Homo sapiens: one gene and its partners. The gene in region 1 interacts genetically with each later gene. Each region holds a gene or a part of one and is shown in the gene's direction. Other genes may lie near its edges.

Region 1 (7,030 bases):
TCTGTGTACAGTGCAGAATTGCTAACTCGGCGGTGTTTACAGCAGGTTGCTTGAAATGCTGCGTCTTGCGTGACTGGAAGTCCCTACCCATCGAACGGCAGCTGCCTCACACCTGCTGCGGCTCAGGTGGACCACGCCGAGTCAGATAAGCGTCATGCAACCCAGTTTTGCTTTTTGTGCTCCAGCTTCCTTCGTTGAGGAGAGTTTGAGTTCTCTGATCAGGACTCTGCCTGTCATTGCTGTTCTCTGACTTCAGATGAGGTCACAATCTGCCCCTGGCTTATGCAGGGAGTGAGGCGTGGTCCCCGGGTGTCCCTGTCACGTGCAGGGTGAGTGAGGCGTTGCCCCCAGGTGTCCCTGTCACGTGTAGGGTGAGTGAGGCGCGGCCCCCGGGTGTCCCTGTCCCGTGCAGCGTGATTGAGGTGTGGCCCCCGGGTGTCCCTGTCCCGTGCAGGGTGAGTGAGGCACTGTCCCCGGGTGTCCCTGTCACGTGCAGGGTGAGTGAGGCGCGGTCCCCGGGTGTCCCTGTCACGTGTAGGGTGAGTGAGGCACTGTCCCCGGGTGTCCCTCTCAGGTGTAGGGTGAGTGAGGCGCCGTCCCCGGGTGTCCCTGTCACGTGTAGGGTGAGTGAGGCGTGGTCCCCGGGTGTCCCTGTCCCGTGCAGGGTGAGTGAGGCGCTGTCCCCGGGTGTCCCTGTCACGTGCAGGGTGAGTGAGGCGCGGTCCCCGGGTGTCCCTGTCACGTGTAGGGTGAGTGAGGCACCGTCCCTGGGTGTCCCTCCCAGGTGTAGGGTGAGTGAGGCGCTGTCCCCGGGTGTCCCTCTCAGGTGTAGGGTGAGTGAGGCGCGGCCCCAGGTGTCCCTGTCACGTGTAGGGTGAGTGAGGCACCGTCCCTGGGTGTCCCTCCCAGGTATAGGGTGAGTGAGGCACTGTCCCCGGGTGTCCCTGTCACGTGCAGGGTGAGTGAGGCGCGGTCCCCAGGTGTCCCTGTCACGTGTAGGGTGAGTGAGGCACTGTCCCCGGGTGTCCCTGTCCCGTGCAGGGTGAGTGAGGCGCGGTCCCCAGGTGTCCCTGTCCCGTGCAGGGTGAGTGAGGCGCCGTCCCCGGGTGTCCCTGTCACGTGCAGGGTGAGTGAGGCACGGCCCCCGGGTGTCCCTGTCACGTGCAGGGTGAGTGAGGCGCGGCCCCCGGGTGTCCCTGTCACGTGCAGGGTGAGTGAGGCGCGGCCCCCGGGTGTCCCTGTCACGTGCAGGGTGAGTGAGGCGCGGTCCCCGGGTGTCCCTGTCACGTGCAGGGTGAGTGAGGCGCGGTCCCCGGGTGTCCCTGTCACGTGCAGGGTGAGTGAGGCGCGGTCCCCGGGTGTCCCTGTCACGTGCAGGGTGAGTGAGGCACGGTCCCCGGGTGTCCCTGTCCCGTGTAGGGTGAGTGAGGCACTGTCCCCGGGTGTCCCTGTCACGTTCAGGGTGAGTGAGGCGCGGTCCCCGGGTGTCCCTGTCACGTGTAGGGTGAGTGAGGCACCGTCCCCGGGTGTCCCTGTCACGTGCAGGGTGAGTGAGGCGCTGTCCCCGGGTGTCCCTGTCACGTGCAGGGTGATTGACGCGAGGCCCCCGGGTGTCCCTGTCACGTGCAGGGTGAGTGAGGCGCCGTCCCCGCGTGTCCCTGTCACGTGCAGGGTGAGTGAGGCGCCGTCCCCGGGTGTCCCTGTCACGTGTAGGGTGAGTGAGGTGCCGTCCCCGGGTGTCCCTGTCACGTGTAGGGTGAGTGAGGCGCCGTCCCCGGGTGTCCCTGTCACGTTCAGGGTGAGTGAGGCACGGCCCCCGGGTGTCCCTGTCACGTGTAGGGTGAGTGAGGCGCGGTCCCCGGGTGTCACTGTCACGTGTAGGGTGAGTGAGGCACTGTCCCCGGGTGTCCCTGTCACGTGTAGGGTGAGTGAGGCGCGGCCCCCGGGTGTCCCTGTCACGTGCAGGGTGAGTGAGGCGCGGCCCCCGGGTGTCCCTGTCACGTGTAGGGTGAGTGAGGCGCGGCCCCCGGGTGTCCCTGTCACGTGCAGGGTGAGTGAGGCGCGGCCCCCGGGTGTCCCTGTCACGTGCAGGGTGAGTGAGGCGCGGCCCCCGGGTGTCCCTGTCACGTGCAGGGTGAGTGAGGCACGGCCCCCGGGTGTCCCTGTCACGTGCAGGGTGAGTGAGGCGCGGCCCCCGGGTGTCCCTGTCACTTGCAGGGTGAGTGAGGCACTGTCCCCGGGTGTCCCTGTCACGTTCAGGGTGAGTGAGGCGCGGTCCCCGGGTGTCCCTGTCACGTGTAGGGTGAATGAGGCACTGTCCCCGGGTGTCCCTGTCACGTGCAGGGTGAGTGAGGCGCCGTCCCCGGGTGTCCCTGTCACGTGCAGGGTGATTGACGCGAGGCCCCCGGGTGTCCCTGTCACGTGCAGGGTGAGTGAGGCGCCGTCCCCGCGTGTCCCTGTCACGTGCAGGGTGAGTGAGGCGCCGTCCCCGGGTGTCCCTGTCACGTGTAGGGTGAGTGAGGCGCCGTCCCCGGGTGTCCCTGTCACGTGTAGGGTGAGTGAGGCGCCGTCCCCGGGTGTCCCTGTCACGTGTAGGGTGAGTGAGGCGCCGTCCCCGGGTGTCCCTGTCACGTGTAGGGTGAGTGAGGCGCCGTCCCCGGGTGTCCCTGTCACGTGCAGGGTGAGTGAGGCCCCGTCCCCGGGTGTCCCTGTCACGTGTAGGGTGAGTGAGGCACTGTCCCCGGGTGTCTCTGTCACGTGTAGGGTGAGTGAGGCGCCGTCCCTGGGTGTCCCTCTCAGGTGTAGGGTGAGTGAGGCGCCATCCCCGGGTGTCCCTGTCACGTGTAGGGTGAGTGAGGCGCCGTCCCCGGGTGTCCCTGTCACGTGTAGGGTGAGTGAGTTGCGGCCCCCGGGTGTCCCTCTCAGGTGCAGGGTGAGTGAGGCGCTGTCCCTGGGTGTCCCTGTCTCGTGTAGGGTGAGTGAGGCTCTGTCCCCAGGTGTCCTTGGCGTTTGCTCACTTGAGCTTGCTCCTGAATGTTTGCTCTTTCTATAGCCACAGCTGCGCCGGTTGCCCATTGCCTGGGTAGATGGTGCAGGCGCAGTGCTGGTCCCCAAGCCTATCTTTTCTGATGCTCGGCTCTTCTTGGTCACCTCTCCGTTCCATTTTGCTACGGGGACACGGGACTGCAGGCTCTCGCCTCCCGCGTGCCAGGCACTGCAGCCACAGCTTCAGGTCCGCTTGCCTCTGTTGGGCCTGGCTTGCTCACCACGTGCCCGCCACATGCATGCTGCCAATACTCCTCTCCCAGCTTGTCTCATGCCGAGGCTGGACTCTGGGCTGCCTGTGTCTGCTGCCACGTGTTGCTGGAGACATCCCAGAAAGGGTTCTCTGTGCCCTGAAGGAAAGCAAGTCACCCCAGCCCCCTCACTTGTCCTGTTTTCTCCCAAGCTGCCCCTCTGCTTGGCCCCCTTGGGTGGGTGGCAACGCTTGTCACCTTATTCTGGGCACCTGCCGCTCATTGCTTAGGCTGGGCTCTGCCTCCAGTCGCCCCCTCACATGGATTGACGTCCAGCCACAGGTTGGAGTGTCTCTGTCTGTCTCCTGCTCTGAGACCCACGTGGAGGGCCGGTGTCTCCGCCAGCCTTCGTCAGACTTCCCTCTTGGGTCTTAGTTTTGAATTTCACTGATTTACCTCTGACGTTTCTATCTCTCCATTGTATGCTTTTTCTTGGTTTATTCTTTCATTCCTTTTCTAGCTTCTTAGTTTAGTCATGCCTTTCCCTCTAAGTGCTGCCTTACCTGCACCCTGTGTTTTGATGTGAAGTAATCTCAACATCAGCCACTTTCAAGTGTTCTTAAAATACTTCAAAGTGTTAATACTTCTTTTAAGTATTCTTATTCTGTGATTTTTTTCTTTGTGCACGCTGTGTTTTGACGTGAAATCATTTTGATATCAGTGACTTTTAAGTATTCTTTAGCTTATTCTGTGATTTCTTTGAGCAGTGAGTTATTTGAACACTGTTTATGTTCAAGATATGTAGAGTATCAAGATACGTAGAGTATTTTAAGTTATCATTTTATTATTGATTTCTAACTCAGTTGTGTAGTGGTCTGTATAATACCAATTATTTGAAGTTTGCGGAGCCTTGCTTTGTGATCTAGTGTGTGCATGGTTTCCAGAACTGTCCATTGTAAATTTGACATCCTGTCAATAGTGGGCATGCATGTTCACTATATCCAGCTTATTAAGGTCCAGTGCAAAGCTTCTGTCTCCTTCTAGATGCATGAAATTCCAAGAAGGAGGCCATAGTCCCTCACCTGGGGGATGGGTCTGTTCATTTCTTCTCGTTTGGTAGCATTTATGTGAGGCATTGTTAGGTGCATGCACGTGGTAGAATTTTTATCTTCCTGATGAGTGAATCTTTTGGAGACTTCTATGTCTCTAGTAATCTAGTAATTCTTTTTTTAAATTGCTCTTAGTACTGCCACACTGGGCTTCTTTTGATTAGTATTTTCCTGCTGTGTCTGTTTTCTGCCTTTAATTTATATATATATATATATATTTTTTTTTTTTGAGACAGAGTCTTGGTCTGTCGCCCAGGGTGAGTGCAGTGGTGTGATCACAGGTCAGTGTAACTTTTACCTTCTGGCCTGAGCCGTCCTCTCACCTCAGCCTCCTGAATAGCTGGAACTGCAGACACGCACCGCTACACCTGGCTAATTTTTAAATTTTTTCTGGAGACAGGGTCTTGCTGTGTTGCCCAGGCTGGTCTCAAACTCTTGGACTCAAGGGATCCATCTACCTCGGCTTCCCAAAGTGCTGAATTACAGGCATGAGCCACCATGTCTGGCCTAATTTTCAACACTTTTATATTCTTATAGTGTGGGTATGTCCTGTTAACAGCATGTAGGTGAATTTCCAATCCAGTCTGACAGTCGTTGTTTAACTGGATAACCTGATTTATTTTCATTTTTTTGTCACTAGAGACCCGCCTGGTGCACTCTGATTCTCCACTTGCCTGTTGCATGTCCTCGTTCCCTTGTTTCTCACCACCTCTTGGGTTGCCATGTGCGTTTCCTGCCGAGTGTGTGTTGATCCTCTCGTTGCCTCCTGGTCACTGGGCATTTGCTTTTATTTCTCTTTGCTTAGTGTTACCCCCTGATCTTTTTATTGTCGTTGTTTGCTTTTGTTTATTGAGACAGTCTCACTCTGTCACCCAGGCTGGAGTGTAATGGCACAATCTCGGCTCACTGCAACCTCTGCCTCCTCGGTTCAAGCAGTTCTCATTCCTCAACCTCATGAGTAGCTGGGATTACAGGCGCCCACCACCACGCCTGGCTAATTTTTGTATTTTTAGTAGAGATAGGCTTTCACCATGTTGGCCAGGCTGGTCTCAAACTCCTGACCTCAAGTGATCTGCCCGCCTTGGCCTCCCACAGTGCTGGGATTACAGGTGCAAGCCACCGTGCCCGGCATACCTTGATCTTTTAAAATGAAGTCTGAAACATTGCTACCCTTGTCCTGAGCAATAAGACCCTTAGTGTATTTTAGCTCTGGCCACCCCCCAGCCTGTGTGCTGTTTTCCCTGCTGACTTAGTTCTATCTCAGGCATCTTGACACCCCCACAAGCTAAGCATTATTAATATTGTTTTCCGTGTTGAGTGTTTCTGTAGCTTTGCCCCCGCCCTGCTTTTCCTCCTTTGTTCCCCGTCTGTCTTCTGTCTCAGGCCCGCCGTCTGGGGTCCCCTTCCTTGTCCTTTGCGTGGTTCTTCTGTCTTGTTATTGCTGGTAAACCCCAGCTTTACCTGTGCTGGCCTCCATGGCATCTAGCGACGTCCGGGGACCTCTGCTTATGATGCACAGATGAAGATGTGGAGACTCACGAGGAGGGCGGTCATCTTGGCCCGTGAGTGTCTGGAGCACCACGTGGCCAGCGTTCCTTAGCCAGTGAGTGACAGCAACGTCCGCTCGGCCTGGGTTCAGCCTGGAAAACCCCAGGCATGTCGGGGTCTGGTGGCTCCGCGGTGTCGAGTTTGAAATCGCGCAAACCTGCGGTGTGGCGCCAGCTCTGACGGTGCTGCCTGGCGGGGGAGTGTCTGCTTCCTCCCTTCTGCTTGGGAACCAGGACAAAGGATGAGGCTCCGAGCCGTTGTCGCCCAACAGGAGCATGACGTGAGCCATGTGGATAATTTTAAAATTTCTAGGCTGGGCGCGGTGGCTCACGCCTGTAATCCCAGCACTTTGGGAGGCCAAGGCGGGTGGATCACGAGGTCAGGAGGTCGAGACCATCCTGGCCAACATGATGAAACCCCATCTGTACTAAAAACACAAAAATTAGCTGGGCGTGGTGGCGGGTGCCTGTAATCCCAGCTACTCGGGAGGCTGAGGCAGGAGAATTGCTTGAACCTGGGAGTTGGAAGTTGCAGTGAGCCGACATTGCACCACTGCACTCCAGCCTGGCAACACAGCGAGACTCTGTCTCAAAAAAAAAAAAAAAAAAAAAAATTCTAGTAGCCACATTAAAAAAGTAAAAAAGAAAAGGTGAAATTAATGTAATAATAGATTTTACTGAAGCCCAGCATGTCCACACCTCATCATTTTAGGGTGTTATTGGTGGGAGCATCACTCACAGGACATTTGACATTTTTTGAGCTTTGTCTGCGGGATCCCGTGTGTAGGTCCCGTGCGTGGCCATCTCGGCCTGGACCTGCTGGGCTTCCCATGGCCATGGCTGTTGTACCAGATGGTGCAGGTCCGGGATGAGGTCGCCAGGCCCTCAGTGAGCTGGATGTGCAGTGTCCGGATGGTGCACGTCTGGGATGAGGTCGCCAGGCCCTGCTGTGAGCTGGATGTGTGGTGTCTGGATGGTGCAGGTCAGGGGTGAGGTCTCCAGGCCCTCGGTGAGCTGGAGGTATGGAGTCCGGATGATGCAGGTCCGGGGTGAGGTCGCCAGGCCCTGCTGTGAGCTGGATGTGTGGTGTCTGGATGGTGCAGGTCAGGGGTGAGGTCTCCAGGCCCTCGGTGAGCTG
Region 2 (3,537 bases), on another chromosome or scaffold:
CACTTAGTGCCAGTGAAGCAGGGGTCCAGCAGCAGCCACTGGAGCTGAGGCCTGGAGAGTACAGGGTGCTGTTGTGTGTGGACATTGGCGAGACCCGGGGGTGAGTGAGGTGGGGAGAAACGAGGGAGATGATCAGAGGAGGCTGGGGGGTAGGCACTGCCCTGCTCTGATCTAGGCTTCCCTCCTTGCCACTCCAGGGGCGGGCACAGGCCGGAGCTGCTCCGAGAGCTACAGCGGCTGCACGTGACCCACACGGTGCGCAAGCTGCACGTTGGAGATTTTGTGTGGGTGGCCCAGGAGACCAATCCTAGAGACCCAGGTGAAGGGCCGTGGACAGGCTGGCACCAGGGGCAGGGCCTGGTGGGTAGGGGATCGCAAGCTAACGGCTGGCTTGTCAGCAGCAAACCCTGGGGAGTTGGTACTGGATCACATTGTGGAGCGCAAGCGACTGGATGACCTTTGCAGCAGCATCATCGACGGCCGCTTCCGGGAGCAGAAGGTAATTTTGCTGGCTTTGCCAGGCTTCCCTGCCTGCTCCGAAGCCCCGTTTTCAGCCCAGAGCAATCCAGGGGCACTTCTGGCAGCCTCCTTGAGGCAGAGCCCTTTGGAATCCAGCCACACCCACCCTGTGGCTGCTCCAGGATCAGACCCCCACAGGCCCATCCAGGCGCACAGTAGGAAGCCAGGTACCTGCATTCTTGGGCTGAGGTCAGGAGCATTTTAAAGACCTCTTGGGTACCCAGCCCCTGCAGTCTTGGATAAACAAGGCATAAACCTCCAGGAGTGGAAATACAGAGGCTGTACCTTGGTACTTGCTGCTGGGTGGACCCCTAGTCACAGAGGCCATGTGCCGGCCCAGGGGAGGCTTGAAGGATGGGCAGTGTTGAGAGATGGAGAAAAGGCTTTCTAGACAAGAGTGTCAGCATGAGCAAAGCTGCGGAGGCCCCTGTGAGGCAGGTGGAGAGGCTAGGGAGGATGCAGAGGCTAACTGGTGGGAACAGGGTCCCGGCACCATTTTGAGTGTGACATCATGGATGCCCAGGCATGTGGTCATCCAGCCTGACCCTCCCTGTCCACTCTGTACACTTCCCTAGTTCCGGCTGAAGCGCTGTGGTCTGGAGCGCCGGGTATACCTGGTGGAAGAGCATGGTTCCGTCCACAACCTCAGCCTTCCTGAGAGCACACTGCTGCAGGCTGTCACCAACACTCAGGTGAGCTGGGAGGGCAGGGCCAGGCAGGCAGGCAGGGGCCCCTGTGGTCCATGGTTCATGGTCTAGGCCAGGAGCCACCTTCCCTCTCTTGGGTCCTCTTCCCCAGGTCATTGATGGCTTTTTTGTGAAGCGCACAGCAGACATTAAGGAGTCAGCCGCCTACCTGGCCCTCTTGACGCGGGGCCTGCAGAGACTCTACCAGGTGAGCAGAGGCCCCTTTCCCAGTGTCGGGACAGAGCCCACAAGGAATTCACCTTGCCTGGGCCCTGTGCATCCCCAAAAGAAGCAAGGTGGGTGAGATCCCCATTTCTCAGGCTGGCCCCCCAAGGCTGAGGACTGGGCAGGGGCTGGCTGGAGTTGTTCCTTCGAGCTCCAGCCTGGCCTCAGTCCCTTCTTCCCTCAGGGCCACACCCTACGCAGCCGCCCCTGGGGAACCCCTGGGAACCCTGAATCAGGGGCCATGACCTCTCCAAACCCTCTCTGCTCACTCCTCACCTTCAGTGACTTCAACGCAGGAGCCATCAAGAATAAGGTACTGTCTCTGCCTAGCTTCTCAGACATGGCCTGGCCCAGACCCCCACTGATCCAGCCCTTTCCCGAACCCAGGCCCAGTCGGTGCGAGAAGTGTTTGCCCGGCAGCTGATGCAGGTGCGCGGAGTGAGTGGGGAGAAGGCAGCAGCCCTGGTGGATCGATACAGCACCCCTGCCAGGTAGGCCCTAAAGGGCCCTTAGGTGTCCTCAGCCCCTGCCCTCCATGCATGGAATTCACCTTAATCCATGCTTCGTGGAGGGGGCCTGGCCTTGTGTGGGCTCTGCAGACCAGAGATAGACAGATCCCAGGGTGCTCGTGGAGGTCAAGTGGGGAGGAAGCCAGCAGGCCCACATAGTGTCCCAGGTAGTGGAGGCCACAGGAGGGAGGGAGACGTCCCACCTGGTGGAGAAGAGGCTTCCTGGAGAAGGGGTTGGGCCATTAAGGGGAGTGAGGGTGAAGGTTTGGAGCCTTTGCTGGTTTTGCCCCAGAGTTCCCACAGGGAGGGAGGACAGCCCGGCTGGCATGGGGCCTTGAGTGCCAAGCTCAGGAAGTGGGGCAGTGTCCCAACTCTTCCATCCCATGCTGACCCCTCTGCCTGGCCCCTCATGGTGCTGGCCCAGAGTGGGCCACTGTCAGCCTCAGAAACTCAAACCCCTGCCCCCCAGCCTCCTGGCCGCCTATGATGCCTGTGCCACCCCCAAGGAACAAGAGACACTGCTGAGCACCATTAAGTGTGGGCGTCTACAGAGGTGAGGGCAAGAGACGGAACCTGGAGGGAGTGGCAGGGACTGGGGCTGCCCTAGGCCCAGGGCGTGACCCTCGCTGCCTCTCTTCCTGCAGGAATCTGGGGCCTGCTCTGAGCAGGACCTTATCCCAGCTCTACTGCAGCTACGGCCCCTTGACCTGAGCTTATGCCGTGAAACAGCCCCCAGCCCCCGTCTGTCCCCCAACCCAGGCTAGCCAGCCTTTTAACAACATCTTTTGGGGTACAATTAGAATCTAAGTGTTTGCAGCCATATGTGTCATGTAGAAGATGCCTAGCCCTGGGGACCTTGTGAAATACGCAGGAACCAGGGATACCATCTGGTCCAGTGGTTTTTAAACAAAGCTGCTTAGCACCTGGAATTCCCTGGTCAGGGAGATGGAGTCAGTGGGGCATTGCAGCTTGGAATCTATTTTATGTCACCAGTTGGTCCTCATCAAATAAAATTTCCTTAGGAGTGCAGAGGGCTCATTGGGAAAATAAAAATAATAAAAATAAATAAAACTTCCTAAAAGAAAAGATTGAAAACCACTAACAGTCCAGTTGCCTCGTTTTATAGAAAAACAGGCCCAGGGAACTACTAGGGCTTATCCAAATGTACAGTTTGAGGCAGAGTTAGGAATGGAACCCAGGGCCTCCTGGCGCTGTCCAGAGTGGAGTTTCTTAGGACCCCTGCAAGCCAGCCAAGTCCAAATCTCTGGGCCGGGGCCTGGAGTCCGCCCTCCTCGTTACCTCCTCTCCTCTCGGGGTGACTGAAGCTCGTGGTGCAGAGCTCCCAGCTCCTGTCAATGGGGGCCCCTGGGCCTGAACATATAGAGACCCCCATTTAGGTGAACTTGGCCTGCCCCCCCAAGTGCCACCCTGCCCCAGCCTGAGGCTTCCTGCAGTGTGACCCGCCCACCTCAGCCACCAGGACTTTCTTTCTCCCTTTATTGCCTTTCTCATTCTGCCCCTCACAACAGGCTCCTCAGCTAGGGTAGCTGCAGGGAGGGTGGCTCCCTCCTGCTCCTCAGAAGGTGTAGGCCCCTACA
Region 3 (7,829 bases), on another chromosome or scaffold:
TTGACATACTAACTGCAACACAACCTCCTGCAACAGAATTCCCACGTGATTTGCTCAAGCCTACGGAATCAGAAACTCTATGAATCCACCCAGGGATGTCACTTTTTAACAAGGAGTGTCTTATATAATCTCAAATTTGAGAACCAACCATATAGCATACTTTTTAACAGGTATATAATGATAATTGAATTCCAAACTATAAGAGTATCATACTTTGTCAAATCCATTTCCTTATTGGTGGATACTGAAGTTGCTGCCAGATTTTTTCCTTGGTACCTAATATTTCAATAAATGTCTTCATGCACCATTGCTTTTATTTTTGTAGTATAGATTTCCCAAATGAGGATTATTGGATATAATTTTAGGGTCTAATAGATGTTCATTTTAAAGTCTAGTAGACATTGTAAGCTTACCTTCAAAAGGTTTCAAAAAGTCACATTCCAACCAGCAATATACATGAGTGCCCTTATCCTAGGATCCAACTCTAAGTATATTAGAAACTTCCTTCCAAATTGATGAGTTAAAACATTCTTTAAGGCAGGGCGCGGTGGCTCATGCCTGTAATCCTAGCACTTTGGGAGGCCAAGGTGGGCGGATCACAAGGTCAGGATTTGAGACCAGCCTGACCAATATGGTGAAACCCCATCTCTACTAAAAATACAAAAATCAGCTGGGCATGGTGGCGGGCACCTGTACTCCCAGCTACTTGGGAGGCTGAGGCAGGAGAATCACTTGAACCCAGGAGGTAGAGGTTGCAGTGAGCCGAGATCGCGCCACTGCACTTCAGCCTGGGTGACAGAGCAAGACTCTGTCTCAAAATAAATAAATAAATAAATAAATAAATAAATAAATAAATAATAAAAATAAAAAAATTCTTTATTTTTTAAGTGTACAGTATAATGTACTGATTTGGGGTGCAGTTAAAAGTTTTTTTTTCCACATTTATAAGTTGTTTGCAATTCCTCTACTTGAGGGAGTTTACAGATAGTCACCAGCTGAAAATGGCAGTATTGAGAGTGAGAGAGTATACAGCTACATAGTATCAGTTTCCTTGATACCCTTACCTTCTTCCCAGGCTCCACCCTCCTCTCAAATTTCTGCTACTCCTCACATACAGTGTTCCTGAAGCCACTGATTATCTTTCACCCTCCTGTGAGGACTCTATGTTCTCCTTTGGAATTATTTTCACTTGTTCATTTTCTTGGCCAATTTTGCTGTTTAATTTTATATCTTTTTCTTATCTATTTGATGTAACTGTGCAAACTAGATCTTTAACAATTTGCCTTACATACTGTTTTAATACAACAAATTTTAAAAGTTACTGTTTTACTTAATACTCTACTCAATTTTGAGCAAACTTCATTTGATTTTAATTATAGCAACCATTTAAAACAAGCAGCGCCATTTTAGCTTGTTGCCTTTCTGTAACTGCTTTTAGAAATTCACTTTCTTTAACAACGTGCAATTTCTTCATAATGCCATAGTAAGTTAACTGTAGAGAAGTCACTAATGAATATTATTTTACTTTATTAAATAACAGCAAGGGAAATATAAAAATTTAAATAGTTTTACATGCAACCTAAAAACTTTCCAAACTCAAAAATGGACTTTTTTTTGGAGGGGGGTAGCTTTCTCTCAAGAACTCTTATTTCAAAATCCAAATGGGATTTCAAAATACAAGCAAATAAATGTCAAAGCCTCTTGGCCTCTGCTCTGCCATTCTATGCCTGAAATCCTGCCAAAATGAAATTTTCCGTTCAAAAGGGCTGGCATTTACTAAACTGATGTTTTAAAGACATTCTCAAAAAGTAGTGGAAACTTTGTCCAGCTTTTTATGTTCCTGTCTTGTAGACAGAACAGCTGCCTTTGCAGATATTTTCCAAGATCTTACATTTTCTGAAAAACAAATTTTCAGCCCTTCCACTGTCTTCAGCAAGTGGGTCTATTGGTTTTTCCCAGTGCCAAGCAGAGAAGATAAACAACTGCCAAACTAGAAGCTAGTGTCTGAGTATCAAGGCATAGAAAGGACAGAAGAGATAGTGTTTCAGTAAGTATCAATGCAGAGAAAGGACAGAAGAGAAAGTGGGAGAAAGAAAAGAGGGTGGTTCAATCGTTCACAGTCAAGAGGGACACATTTATCTCAAAATTTTAGGCTGTTTCAACAAAACCGAGCTGTAGCGAGACTAGCTGCTTATTCACACGAGAACATCATTTTCAGTTACTATGAAGATCAAAGAGTTAAAAGATATGAGTTCGTTTAAAGAACTCAAAAGGGAAAATATGAAGCCACCGCAATACGTAGTAAAATCTGAGGCTTAACAGCGCAGCGCCTGAGAGTGCCAGTCCACTAAAGGGAGGGAGAAGGGGCGCAGAGCTTATGGGGGCCTGGGAAGGAGTGATAAGTCTTTGGAAATGGAAACTAAAGCTATCAGCCAGCGAAAACCATCAATATTCCTAAAAATATATAATACTAATAATACATAAAAGCTTTAAAAAACTAACAAGACACTGTGGGATACAAAAAAAGGTAGAAATGAAAATTACAGAATGTTAAGTGAAAAAACTGAAATCCATCTACAGTCGAACAGTTTGCACCTTTAAAAGCAATGACTTGAAGCAGCAAGCAAAAGTTCCCAGTCCTTAAGACTTTCTCCCCACTCTCAATTCTTTCTTTCCTCTAGTGCAAAAGCTGTCTAAGCAGTGCACGCCGGAATTATCCCCACGTGAGCCTTCCTTTAATTTCGGTCTTAATTTTTTTCTCTCTTGTTATTACTCCCAGACCCCAACCTCTTTTTCCTCATCTAGTATCTGTTTCAGGGACAGGACAAAGAGGAGGCAGCGAGCTGAAAAAAGTTTTGTGGTTTGGGATACTTGGGCCTTTGTTGTGTCATTTCCTCTACCCCTCCACGCCCCCAACCACGTGACCAAGAAGGGCCGGAATTTTGTGAATGGAGACGAAAGGTGGCTGTTGGGGCGGGCGGGACTCCGCCCCCTTCCCTAAAGCGGCCAATCTCCTAGCGGAGCGCTGAGGGGTCAGCAATAAACAACAATGGGCTGGGGATTTACGGCTCGTTATTGGCTGCGGGAAGAACCTCGCCGGGACCTAACCCGAAGCTCCGCCCCCTCGCGGTTACCCTGGATACCCGTCAGGCTCGGGCTGCAGAGAAGGTCTTTGGAAACTGTTGCTCAGATTACAGGCGCTGGGTTATTCCAGGAGTGCAGGGTGGTGGAGGACCCTTGTTATTGACCCCCTGCTTGGTTGCACCCTCAGATAGTACCCATGAGCTTCACTGTTCAGCCTCGGGGCCCAGGCGCTTCCTGGAATCTCTCCTTGGCCGGGGTTAAAATGCAGTTCCCGCTCAAAATGCTTATAGGTGCGCGCGTTGTGAACTCCGATTTAGTAGTTTCCGGGAATGCGCGGGGTCTGTCTTTGCTGTCCATAGTTATTGGTTGTTTTCCCAGTAATAAGTGTTGATTGTTTGTTTGTTTGCTTCTTTTTTAAGTAGATCTTTCTCCTGCCCAGGTCCGGGGTTGAGTGCTGTGCGCTCTTACACTCCATTTTAATGTGTCTCCATAACGTTCTATTTAAGGAAGGAAACTTTCAAATAGAAATTGAGAACTGCAGCACGTTTCCTAACGGGCGGAACAGCTGCCGGAAACGTCTTTTGGTCACTAGTTCTGGTCACAAATGAATTTCAACAGCATTGAGTCCCTGGTCCTATCCCCGCGGCCTCCCGTCCGCTGTTGGACACTGGCTCCTTAAAGTGACGCTTTACTGTTCTGAGTCCCATAGGAGGATCAGGGCAAGTGGCTTCAGAGATGCAGCCCTCACTGCTTAACGTCCTAGTTATTGTCCTTGAAACCCGAGCCATCTCACCGCTCGCCCCCAACCCTGGGCTCTGGCTGTTTAAAAGCTGGAGAGGAAGTGAAAGCGTCAAGTACAGTAAGTGACACCCTCCGCCTCCGTGTATACATAACAAAAGCTCAGGAAACGTGCGGGTTCTAGGATATACGAGCAACCCCAAGCACTCCCTCCTCCTCCCCACAGCCACAGTGGACTGGAAGTACCTTTTCCCAGTGCACACGTAGGGACCATTTTGACTTATACTTTTTCACCTAGCTTGCTCTGTTGTCCTCCCATCACAACCTCTGCTAATCAGCAATTCTGCATCTCCTAGGTGCCTTCCTTATAGATTCTTTATGTTTCTGTCCCACGAACGATAGGATCTAATTTTAGTTGAGGATGACTGTTTAAAAAATGTTTCGATAAACCATAATGGTGATGGTGGGTTTTGAAAAACGGGAAAATAAATTGGGCCAAAAGCTGAGTGGGAATGAGGATAGAGAGCGAGGTGAGCTCCTAGTCAGGGCAAGAGTAGAGAGGTTGGAGATCCTGAGGGGAGGGCAGCTGAATAAGGCGGTACGGGCTTTGTGGATCGCGGCTCTAAGGGTATACCAGAACCGCACAACAGTACTTTAAGGAAACCAGCCCAATAGTGGACCTAACACCCCAATAATGGGAACTGGCGACTCGAAACACACGGTTTCAGTATCCCCAGGCGCCTTAACAATAAGCAGCGGGTTACAGAGGAAATCGAGTCTCTCCGTGGCGCTTCCAGGCTGAGGACCCAGCGCCTACCGGCCGAGCACCCCCTAGGGCAGAGGGGCGAGGGAGACCCGCGGGAAGGGGCAGCAAGCCGCCTGATTGACAGCCCGAAATCTGATCTTGTGAAAGAGACGCGGAGCCAATGGGAGGCAGCGATCCATCAGTTTGGATTGGAGGCCCCTGGAGGAGAAGTAGAGGAAAAACCACCGAATTGAGCTCTGTCAGAGGCGCTTTCGGCTTCCAAGGGGGAAGTGCTGGGCTATAATTAATGTTTTTATTAAATTTGGAGGGAAGTTTTTGCAGCCTTTCGCCTAGCGTGGCCTTCAGGTGGGTCTTTCCAACAACTTTTTATGTCTCTCCAGATAATTGCATGGTTGTGGGTCGCAAAAACTATCCTGATGAAAGAGGTGTCTCCGTCTCTTTAGTCCCGTTAGGTGCAAAGCAAGTCTCGTTGATCGCCATTGCTAGTTTTGCACACGTTTGCGAATCAGAGCTGCCCGGGGTACACCGACCGCGCAGGGAAACATCGAGAGTGTAAATAAATACATCGCCTCTTGTTCGGATTTTTGCTACTACCGAAAATATGTAAATTGTGAACTCTGTTGGCTCTCTTTGGATCCAGGTGAAGGAGGCGGTGTAGGGAGGGTTATTTTTGTGAATGGGACTGTCGGAGGGTAATTAGCTATGCAAATTCAAGAGCTTCATTCATGATTTTTTTTTAAGCCTAAAAGCCATCTTGTTCCCCTCTAGGTTGATAGAAGTCCAGATCCTGAGGAAATCTCCAGCTAAATGCTCAAAATATAAAATACTGAGCTGAGATTTGCGAAGAGCAGCAGCATGGATGGATTTTATGACCAGCAAGTGCCTTACATGGTCACCAATGTGAGTGATCAGTTTGAAAGTTGCTGTTTATAAACTTGACTCCGTCGGGGGTGGGGAGAGGGAGAAAATGAGAAGGGAGGGGGCACGGGGGTTGGGATTGCAGATACTTATCTGCTTTGTTGCCACTGTAGGGCGACTCTGCTTCTAGAAGCCCAGTCTTCAAAATGAGCTTACCTTTCAGTGATTTGGATAAGGCATAGTTTTGTTTTTAAGACCCCTTTTTCTGATTAAAGTGCCCAACATGAGTGGAAGAGGAGATGGAGGGCAGCAGCAGCTGCTGCACTCAAAGTTTTTGGCTGGGTTTGTCTGCCACATTGAAAAGAATGAAGTTGAGACAAATGCTGACACTTTTTGTTTATATGGGGTGTTTTTGTTTCTTTTTTTTTTCTCATTTTCTCTTTTTTTTTTTTTTCATTTCTCTACTCTTTTTGCTTTTTTTTTTTGTGGGGGTGGGGTGGGGAGGAGGGGCTGTCCAAGAGAGAATAAAACCCACTGTTTTAATCTAGCATTGAACCAGCCTAAAAACAACTTTAAGTGTAAATGCTTCAGGTTGTTTTGATGCTGAGATACCATGAATATATGATTGATAAATAGTAATGTGCTAAGATCGGCACTGGGAAGCAACTCTCCCTGCCTGCTTAACATAAGCTTTCACTGTCAAATAAGTGAGAAAATGAATATTAGAGTTGATACTATGGACTTCTATTTTTCTATTCAGAGAAGATCCATTAGACTTATGTATGCATGTCTGTGTGTGTGTGTGTGCGCGCGCGTGTGCGTGTGTGTGATCTGAGGTTTACATTCTTTTAAAGGATTTTATCTTTCCCTTTGTAGAGTCAGCGTGGGAGAAATTGTAACGAGAAACCAACAAATGTCAGGAAAAGAAAATTCATTAACAGAGATCTGGCTCATGATTCAGAAGGTGAGGTTTGATTTTGGGCTGAATCCCCATTTTTTTACCTACACTCTCCACCCTGCTAAAAGAAAAGGAGCACTTCAGTCTTATCTTAAAAATAATAAACTTTGAAATTACTGAATCTAACTAAGACTTTAACTTGGAACGATTTACATAATGCGGCAGTTTGCATGGGAGACTATTTTATGGTCCTATCACAAAGTAATGAAAGAAGGAAATAAAAACTTCTCAATGACAACCTTCTTTTAATCATTGTTTTGTGTTTAAATACCTTTGTCCATGGGGCATATAACTCACCCCATTCACTAAGATAACAATTTAAAAATATCCAATACAGTGGGACAAATTCAGCAGCTATGTACACTGCTTACTTTTTTCTTTCTCCTTTATTACAAGTTAAACAGTATTAGTGATTGTTTGGTTTCCCACCTCCTTTACACTAAAACCATCTACTATTAACAGAATTTTCAAGGGTGATTTTGATGACTAAATTGTGAGGTCATAATACCTTGTTTATCGACCATAATGTGTTCACTGAATCATACTTAAGGCCTCCTTAATAATTATAATACTATTTGGGAAATTAGTTTGCAGATTCTTTTTATGAACTGTTGCTAGGATGTCAGTATGTTACAAATTATTTTAGCCATATGAGGACATTCATAATAAACTTAATATACTTAGATTTAATTATCAAAGTTTAGTTGGCAATTTTAATTAGATATACTGAATTCTGAAACTTCCTCAAATCTTCATACCATTTAAATACCTCCCTCTCTCCCTCCCTAACATGACCATATAGTTTAGAACTTGATGAGAACCTGGTGCCAAAGAATTATCTTTCTGACTTTTATAAACCTATTAATGTAGAAATTTTCCTCTAAAAACTTGTATTTGAAGTGGTTTCTTTTAGTTTCGAGGTATTGAAGTTGAAAACATAATACTTTGACAGTTGTACCATGTACCATTATATATTTTATGTAAGATTCAGAAGATATAAATAAAATGCTTTTCAGTCTTTCTAATCTTCCCCCTACTACTATTTTAGCAAGAGTTAAATATATTTAAGGAAGATTTCAGTGAACAGACACATATTCACCTCAGCCTTTTTGTGAATTCTGGTATCCCTGAGCTTATTTATTAAGCTGTTTGTTAAAAAGAAGAAAAGATGATTGACTTTATTCTTTAGTTGACTAAAATAATTTCTTAAAGAGTTGCTTAATAGGCATGAAAAGTAGGCAGTATTATTGAGATATTTAAGTTATGCCTCTTTTTTTTATTTTTATGTTGACTGCGTCTCTTGAAATTAAATTTATATTTAATACCAATTTCATGACAAATATTTCCATTTAATGAAGATTAAAGATTTGCAAATCTTATGTTTATGTCTTTGACTTGTTTTTTAGAACTCTTTCAAGATCTAAG

Evidence for each region. A genetic interaction does not mean that the proteins touch.
Region 2: of TERT (region 1) and MUS81, a change in one rescues a mutant of the other (synthetic rescue), as found in Homo sapiens cells (one study listed by BioGRID).
Region 3: of TERT (region 1) and ETV1, extra expression of one rescues a mutant of the other (dosage rescue), as found in Homo sapiens cells (one study listed by BioGRID).

The regions. Positions count from the first base shown.
Region 1 is NC_000005.10:1,285,042-1,292,071, reverse strand, and holds part of TERT (telomerase reverse transcriptase), read left to right. Parts: intron 1-7,030. UniProt on the Homo sapiens protein: Telomerase is a ribonucleoprotein enzyme essential for the replication of chromosome termini in most eukaryotes. Active in progenitor and cancer cells. Inactive, or very low activity, in normal somatic cells.
Region 2 is NC_000011.10:65,863,403-65,866,939, forward strand, and holds the end of MUS81 (structure-specific endonuclease subunit MUS81), read left to right. Parts: intron 1-7; coding exon 8-100; intron 101-175; coding exon of another isoform or gene 176-197; coding exon 198-319; intron 320-398; coding exon of another isoform or gene 399-401; coding exon 402-499; intron 500-1,094; coding exon 1,095-1,211; intron 1,212-1,317; coding exon 1,318-1,413; intron 1,414-1,614; coding exon 1,615-1,743; exon of another isoform or gene 1,744-1,744; intron 1,745-1,817; coding exon 1,818-1,921; intron 1,922-2,408; coding exon 2,409-2,492; intron 2,493-2,583; coding exon 2,584-2,650; 3' UTR 2,651-3,037; downstream 3,038-3,537. Other genes in the region: EFEMP2 (EGF-containing fibulin-like extracellular matrix protein 2 precursor), read right to left, coding at 3,516-3,537. UniProt on the Homo sapiens protein: Catalytic subunit of two functionally distinct, structure-specific, heterodimeric DNA endonucleases MUS81-EME1 and MUS81-EME2 that are involved in the maintenance of genome stability.
Region 3 is NC_000007.14:13,986,667-13,994,495, reverse strand, and holds the start of ETV1 (ETS translocation variant 1), read left to right. Parts: upstream 1-4,829; 5' UTR 4,830-4,933; intron 4,934-5,031; 5' UTR 5,032-5,228; intron 5,229-5,356; 5' UTR 5,357-5,443; coding exon 5,444-5,488; intron 5,489-5,612; exon of another isoform or gene 5,613-5,652; coding exon of another isoform or gene 5,653-5,682; exon of another isoform or gene 5,683-5,729; coding exon of another isoform or gene 5,730-5,816; intron 5,817-6,322; coding exon 6,323-6,410; intron 6,411-7,810; coding exon 7,811-7,829. UniProt on the Homo sapiens protein: Transcriptional activator that binds to DNA sequences containing the consensus pentanucleotide 5'-CGGA[AT]-3'. Required for olfactory dopaminergic neuron differentiation; may directly activate expression of tyrosine hydroxylase (TH).